Homo sapiens: one gene and its partner. The protein of the gene in region 1 purifies or fractionates together with the protein of each later gene. This does not show direct contact. Each region holds a gene or a part of one and is shown in the gene's direction. Other genes may lie near its edges. The genes, in order: PSME3IP1 and PIP4K2A.

Region 1 (3,500 bases):
TCCAGGTTGTGGGCTTTAGGTGGGAGCAACAGCGTCTGTCAGTTGATTTCATTTCTTTCTAGTAATTTTCACAATTCGCTCTTATTGTTACATTAAACTAAACCTCAGCAACAGTAGTATTCAGGCTGAGACTATTCTCTTGTTCTGAACGTTTGGGTTTGTTTTTTCAGCTTCCATTTCTAGCTTTACTAAATAAAAATGTTGCATGAATATTCTCAGCACTGGAATTTGAAGTAGGAAGAAAGCTGAAGTCGACATGTCTTTGTTTTCAACTAAGATTTAGTGTTTTCTGGGGAGGAGTATGGTAAAGTTGGTAAGAGTATGCATTTTTGATATCAGGCCTGGATTTGGTTCTCAGCTCTACCATTCACCACCTGTATCACCTTAGACAAATAATCTAACTCCTCTGGACCTCAACTTCATCTGTAAACAGATAATATTTCTCATAGGGTCAATGATCATGTAAATTAGATAATATCCATAAAAGGAATATAATACATGGTAAGAGCTCATTAACTGTTAGCTGCTTTATTTTTGTGGTAGCGTGGAAACTTACTGTTTTTGTTGTTAGTGGTTATCTTGGAATGGACATTGGATTGAATATGTGCCTCCTTGTTAGCACATAGTGCTGTGAATAACATGTCTGGGTAGGGGTTAATTCCACAGTTACTCAAAAGGAAAGAAACCAATAAAGAAAAACAGAGGTTTAGTTTAAAAGGAGTAATATGGCCAGGTGCGGTGGCTCACCCCTGTAATCCCAGCACTTTGGGAGGCCTAGGCGGGCAGATCACGAGTTCAGGAGTTCGAGACAAGCCTGGCCAACATAGTGAAACCCCATCTCTACTAAAAATTCAAAAATTAGCTGGGCGTGTTGGCACACGCCTGTAGTCCCAGCTAGTCAGGAGGCGGAGGCAGGAGAATCGCTTGAACCTGGGAGGCGGAGGTTGCAGTGAGCTGAGATTGCACCACTGGACTCCAGCTTGGGTGACAGAACGAGACTTCATCTCAAAAAAAAAAAAAAAAGGAGTAATAAGTAATATACACTCTGCTATCTTTATTTCCTTCTCTCCTCTTTGAAGAAAAGCTCAGGTAGAAATAACAGATTCGGTAATCTTCTGTGTCAAAATATGCATAAAATGGTTGAGGTGATTGTGGGAGTGAGAAAAGAGAAGGATTGAAGTTCAAATCTTAAATGGCACAGACAAGGGGTTTACAGGGAGGAAGGTCAGAAGAGATATAAATGAAGAGTCAGATTAGTATTCAGGAAAGTACGTGGAACTGAAGTTGGGAGATCTGTTCTTCCAGTCTCACTTTCTCCATTCATGGTTTGTGCACCTTCCCTGCTATACAGACTGGACTTGAACACTAAGTCTTCAATAGCTGAGATTCTCCATCTTAATCTACTTGGAGGCAAGAGCAGGTGAATCAAGATAGTGTAATGTCTCAGAAACAGGAATTTCAAGAAGAAACAATGTCAGATGTTACAGAAATAAAGGAGGATGAGAGCTGGGAAAAGGATGGGATGCTCAGGAGGCCAATTTTTCTAGATTAGAGGGACAGAGAAATAGCTGCAATATGAGATTTACTATGGAACACCAGGTAATAAGAATTATCCCAGGTCCTCTTGCCAACTGTGTAGATAACATCGATGTTAATAAAAATTCTCTGATATGTCAGGAAAAATGTATTCATGTGCTTTCATCAATGGCCTATAAATTAAACTATTTGAGAGTTTTTTTTTTTTTTGAGACAGAATCTTGCCCTGTCGCTCAAGCTGGGGTGCAGCGGTGTGATCTTGGCTCACTGCAACCTCCGCCTCCCAGGTTCAAGCGATTCTCCTGCCTCAGCCTCCTGAGTAGCTGGGATTACAGGTGCGTGCCACCGTGCCTGGCTAATTTTTGTATTTTTAGTAGAGACGGGGTTTCACCATGTCAGTCAGGATGGTCTTGAACTCCTGACCTCGTGATCCATGCGCCTCGGCCTCCCAAAGTGCCAGGATTACAGGCATGAGCCACCGCACCCGGCCGAGAATTTTTTCAATTCAAAGTTGGAAGATAATTTTTAGTTTGTTGCTGGGTGAGATGGAGCTAAATCTCCTTGTTTCTCTTTAGAATTTTAATTGCAGTTCTCACTTGAAATGATTTTTTTTGTTTTTGTTTTTGTTTTGTAGATTGGTTGTTTCATTATGGATGGAGGGGATGATGGTAACCTTATTATCAAAAAGAGGTTTGTGTCTGAGGCAGAACTAGATGAACGGCGCAAAAGGAGGCAAGAAGAATGGGAGAAAGTTCGAAAACCTGAAGATCCAGAAGGTATACTGTGACAGTCAGTATAATGGTCTTTAATCCACACAGCAACCCTGCAGAGTAGGTATTAATTGTCCTCACTTGGTTTTATTTATTTATTTTTTTGAGACGGAGTCTCACTCTGTTGCCCAGGCTGGAGTGCAGTGGCGCGATCTTGGCTCACTGCAACCTCTGCCTCCCAGGCTCAGGAGATTCTCCTGCCTTAGCCTTCCGAGTAGTTGGGATTACAGGCACCAGCCACCACGCCTGGCTAATTTTTGTATTTTTGGTAGAGATGGAGTTTCATCTGTTGGCCAGGCTGGTTCCAAACTCCTGAGCTCAAGCCATCCTCCTGCCTCGGCCTCCCAAAGTGCTGGGATTACAGGTGTGAGCCACCATGCCTGGCCAATTGTCCATACTTTAGAGTTGAGGAACTGAGACTCAGGGGCGAAGTCACCTATGTAAGGTCCTGCACAGCTGGGAGCAGAGCCAGCATACTCACATCCTGCTTCTTTTCTGCCTACCACACTTCCTTCCAAGAGATTCTGCTCCTCTCCTCCATCTATACAGGTGGATCCATGGTCTGAACAACTGAGAACACTGCTGCTGTGGAGGGTTTGGGCTGGCCCCTCAATCAGTTAACTGTCTCAGGCCATGGGCGCTATTGACATTGATAGTTGGCTTTGAGAACTGGTGGCCCCTCTCTGAGGTCCAAAGGGAAACTGGACTTTGTACTATTTTTGTGTTATCCACACCCTCAGATCATGCAGAGACTTGACTTTGTCTTTAAAACCTTTTGTGATTCCAAAATAATATGAAAACAATCTGAAGTGTATATCTCCTCCCCGTCCACCTCTCTCCCCTCTCCTTTTCCTTTCAGAATGTCCAGAGGAGGTTTATGACCCTCGATCTCTATATGAAAGGCTACAGGAACAGAAGGACAGGAAGCAGCAGGAGTACGAGGAACAGTTCAAATTCAGTAAGCTTCAGAAAACAGAGAGTTCAAGGGGCTCTGTGGGGTACTTTTGACGCACTTTTGCCTTGTGCAGCACTTTTCCTAACTAGCCGTGGAATTGTCTTGATTTTCGAGTCTCCGGATGCTTATTTGGTGGAAAAGAGACAGCCTTCAGCCTTCTAGACCACATTGAATATTTTTGTTTAGAGCTCAAAACACCCATTTTAATTCTATGGTAATATTTAGTAATGGGAAAAAAT
Region 2 (4,026 bases), on another chromosome or scaffold:
TGGCATCAGTGTTTGCATCTGTGAACTGAGGTTGTTTGGATGATTTCCAAGTCTAACTCAAGATTCTGTTTTTTCAGTCTACTAGGTGCACAGTGTTATACTAGGATTTGTAGAATACTATATAAAAGTTGTCTTACTATTATAACCTTCCAAATGCAGCAACATTCAGGGAATTTTCAAGACCTTGACTACAGGGGAAGGAAATCTATGGTGATTTTAAGAGACTGTGAACTAAGGGTTTGTTATATTGAATGTAGCTGAACTGCATTGCAGTCTATTAAGCCAAAGTCGATTTGATTGAAACATAACAACTTGCAATTAAGGTGAAAATGTTCAAGTCCATTGAGGTGGTAATGAAAATCTTGATTTGGGCAATGGTCATAGTCGGGAGTAAGCCTGCCATTGTGTGGTTAATTTGATATGTTACTGCTTTGTAACTTAAAATACCCATCAGTGAATGGATCAGTGCCAATTTTTAAGTATTTTAAGCAGAGAATATAACTGAATACATAAAGGAAAAGACTTAAGGCAGTTTTGTCTTGTTACATTTAGAATTAAACTAAAAATGATCAAACAGTAAGCGTCTTAAGATGATATTTTAATAGTGTGGGGAGGATGTTGAATGATATGAGCCAAGACTTGTTTTAAATAGATACTCTAAAAGATTTTTATCCACAGTGAAATGTGAGCCTTTTAGAAATTAGTATTTTAAAACCTATTTAAATATCCAAAGGAAAACATTATCTGTATAGAAAAATCTTAAAGCACATAAAACTTGTTTAAAACATGTAGCATTTAGAAGTAGCTAAGTATTGATGTTAGAGGCTTTTGGTTTAAAGCTGTAGAAGTTGAAATGAGCTTTGGCAAAAATGTCAGGTATTGAGGGGTTTGGGGGGCCTATCACAGTAGAAGGAAAGGCTGGTAATGGAACCATGTGAAGAGCTGGGTGCTTGAGTGTGTGGGTGTGTGAGTGCGTGGGACTTTTCTGTACCCTTTGGCTCAGTTCTCCTTCATAGCTGGCTGGTTCCTCCACAGAGCAGGGAATGAACGGTTCCTGTATTTCACATTTTGTCATTTCTGCTCCCCCAAAAGGGTTTCCTGTCTCTAATTCAGTTATAAAAATACCGTGGAAGGATTCCACTTGGGATTGGTCTGGCCTTGGTCATTTGTGGCCGTCCCTTGGACTAAGCAGTTATAAAAACATGGCAGCGCTTGCCTGTTGGCGTTGGGGAAAGAACAGTCCCCAGAGAGGGGAAAGGGCCTGCCAGGCAGTTTCAGGCAGGTCTCTGTCCGAGTAATAGAGCTGGATGGTTCTGGACATCCGTGGGTCTTTACCGTGGGAATCTGTGAGGGCCAGCCTGATGAGCACCATGTGCTGTGTTGTGTGTGGATTGGAGAATTCATGGTGTCCTTGGTGGAGCGTCAGTAGCTTTGATTATATTCTCCACAAGCTCTGGTTTTTGGAATAGACAAAGACCATATTGGATACATCATAATTTTTTTTTTTTTTTTTTTGGTTCATGGGTTTTTATTTGGGCACTGAAAGAAGATAAGGAAACTAAGTTTTAAAGTGATTTGAGTGACTGTGAAATGACTTTGACTGAATAGGACATAATAAGGCAATTACATTAAAATTAAAATTAGACATTAGATGAAATTATTGAGTGGAACCCAGCTACCATTCATTCAAGAACTAGTCTCCTCAAACTATTTTTTTGTTCTTTTTAATCTTCAGAGGAAAGAAACATACCAAGCAGACATACAGAAAGTTTATTAGGGAAGTCGTTTTATACTCCTTAAAACTTGGGATTATAACCAGAGAACAGAATACATTTTCCTCTCCATTTGTCAGATACTTTAGAGTGAACTCTAAGTATTTATACTTAGTACTTAGTGTTACTTAGTACTTACAGTTACTAAACTTCAGTACTCAGAATGATGCCCCATGTCAGGTCAGTGATTTCTATTTCCAGGGTATCCTGATCTGCTGTGTCTTTAGATAGGTTGCCGGCAAGAATTATAATAAACCACCAAAATCTGCCTTAAGTTGATTAGAAAATACAGGCAACCAGAGTAATTAATTCTGCCAGCATAGCCTTCGAAATACAAATTTTGGAATTGAAGGGAATTGGTGCAATTTGGCAAAAAAGGTTTGTGGTTAGACAGATGAGGTTCAAATGCTAACTTTGGAACTGATGGGCTCTTTGAGCAGGTGATTTAGTCACTTGAGCCTCAATTTTCACATTCTTAAAATGGAGATAATGATATGACTTCACAGGGTTGAGAGTTAAATGAGATACTGTGTTTAAGGCCTAGCACTGTAATTAGCACATCATAAGGATTCAGTAAATGATGCCTAAAAGTAATAAAGTTCAAATGCAGTTTGGATGGTGATATATTAAAAGAACCAGATCCCTGTTTCTCAAAATTTAAGGTGTTTATCAATCGGGGACTTTTAAAAAAAAAAAAAAAGTCTGCTAAATTAGGCTCTGCTGCTGGGTAGGTGGCTCATGCATGTAATCCTAGTCATGCATTGGGAGGCTGAGGCAGGAGGATTGCTTGAGGCCAAGATTTTGAGACCAGCCTGGGCAGCATAGCAAGACCCTGTCTCTACAAAAAATGTAAAAACATAGATGGGTATGGTGGCACACACCTGTAGCCTGAACTACTCAGGAGGCTGAGGTGGGAGGATCATCTGAGTCCAGGAGGTCCAGGCTGCAGGGAGCCATGGTTGTACAGTGTACTGTAGCTTGGGTGACAGATGGAGGCTCCCACTAAATGTGAAACAATAAAAATTAAAATGCAGTGTCTAATTCAGCAGATCTGTTGGGAGTGCTGCCTGAGACTGTGCATTTATCATACTCTCGGGTGGTACTGATGCTGCAGGTCCACAGGCTACATAGCAGTAGAAGGAAGAACTTTACCACTAAGGATTCCTCCCCCAGCCCCAACTGTATGTGATGAGCCCTTAGAAGAATGGTGGCCCCATGATAGATTAGAGAATTTGGGAGAAGAAATTGTAGGTTGGAAAGGGACACAAGCAATTTAGATTTAAGAATGTGGAATTGCAGGTGATGGTGGTGGGTGGATCCTGCAGTTACAGTACCATGTAGGATGCTGGAAAGGTGTGATTGGAGCTCGGGAGCCACTAGGGCTGGGATAGACCATTGAGACCTGCCCGTACAGAATCGGTAAGTCAGATCTCCACCGGAGGAGCAGGGACACTGGGGACACTTGGCTTTGAGGGAAGGACAGAGGAAGAAGAAACAGGAGGAGAAAACAGAGGTCGGCACAATTAGATGTTCCCAAGTGCTTGAAAGTCATGGCTGTGCTTGTGGTTGATTGCGGGTGGCTGTGAAAGCTTAAAGACTTAAGGAGTGAATGAGTGGAAGTAGAGGCAATTCCTCTTTTTTGGAAGGTAAGTAGAAGGAAGGTGAAAGATGCCATTTTGTTAGGAATCCCTGGGGAGTTTCCTTGAATCCGTCTCTTCGTTTCCATTCTCACTTCTGTCACTCCTAACCAGATTTGTTTCCCTCTTTCCTAGACTGATATTAAACCCCCCTAGCTTATTTCCCTGTGTCTGCCTTTATCCTCATTTCTTTTCTTTTTTGTACTAGGAACTCCTATGGCAGTCCAGTGAAGGCCATAGACTCCTCAGAATGAGGCTTTTAAAGGAATAAATGAAAATACAGAGGATATGTCCTAGCAAGTTCAAGGATCCTTTTAATTCTATCCATGGACCACTTGGGAGTTCATGGAACCCCATCAAGAACCCTTGCAAGAATAAGATGGGGATAGTGTGGGGTGAGAAAGTGGGGAGAGCACGCAGCAGCCAGGAAGAATTCTTGGGGGGGAACACGCATAGGCTGAATTGATTACCCGCCTGGGTCACAGTGCCTAGTACTTGGGATTCACAACGGTACCGTTAACCACTGAGCTGTGCTGCCTGGGCCAAGCTCAGGAATCATTCATTTCTTTGAGTTCTTTTATTTTCTTAGTCTTAAGAGCTGTTCTTCTTGGATGGAC

Evidence for each region.
Region 2: the proteins of PSME3IP1 (region 1) and PIP4K2A purify together in Homo sapiens (co-immunoprecipitation; one large-scale study listed by IntAct). This does not show direct contact.

What each region holds. Positions count from the first base shown.
Region 1 is NC_000016.10:57,172,540-57,176,039, reverse strand, and holds part of PSME3IP1 (PSME3-interacting protein), read left to right. Parts: exon of another isoform or gene 1-498; coding exon of another isoform or gene 499-501; intron 502-1,019; exon of another isoform or gene 1,020-1,322; coding exon of another isoform or gene 1,323-1,325; intron 1,326-1,351; exon of another isoform or gene 1,352-1,420; intron 1,421-1,434; exon of another isoform or gene 1,435-1,575; coding exon of another isoform or gene 1,576-1,599; intron 1,600-1,749; exon of another isoform or gene 1,750-1,871; intron 1,872-2,054; exon of another isoform or gene 2,055-2,076; intron 2,077-2,170; coding exon of another isoform or gene 2,171-2,185; coding exon 2,186-2,312; intron 2,313-3,165; coding exon 3,166-3,264; intron 3,265-3,500. UniProt on the Homo sapiens protein: Promotes the association of the proteasome activator complex subunit PSME3 with the 20S proteasome and regulates its activity.
Region 2 is NC_000010.11:22,707,553-22,711,578, reverse strand, and holds part of PIP4K2A (phosphatidylinositol 5-phosphate 4-kinase type-2 alpha), read left to right. Parts: intron 1-4,026. UniProt on the Homo sapiens protein: Catalyzes the phosphorylation of phosphatidylinositol 5-phosphate (PtdIns5P) on the fourth hydroxyl of the myo-inositol ring, to form phosphatidylinositol 4,5-bisphosphate (PtdIns(4,5)P2). Has both ATP- and GTP-dependent kinase activities.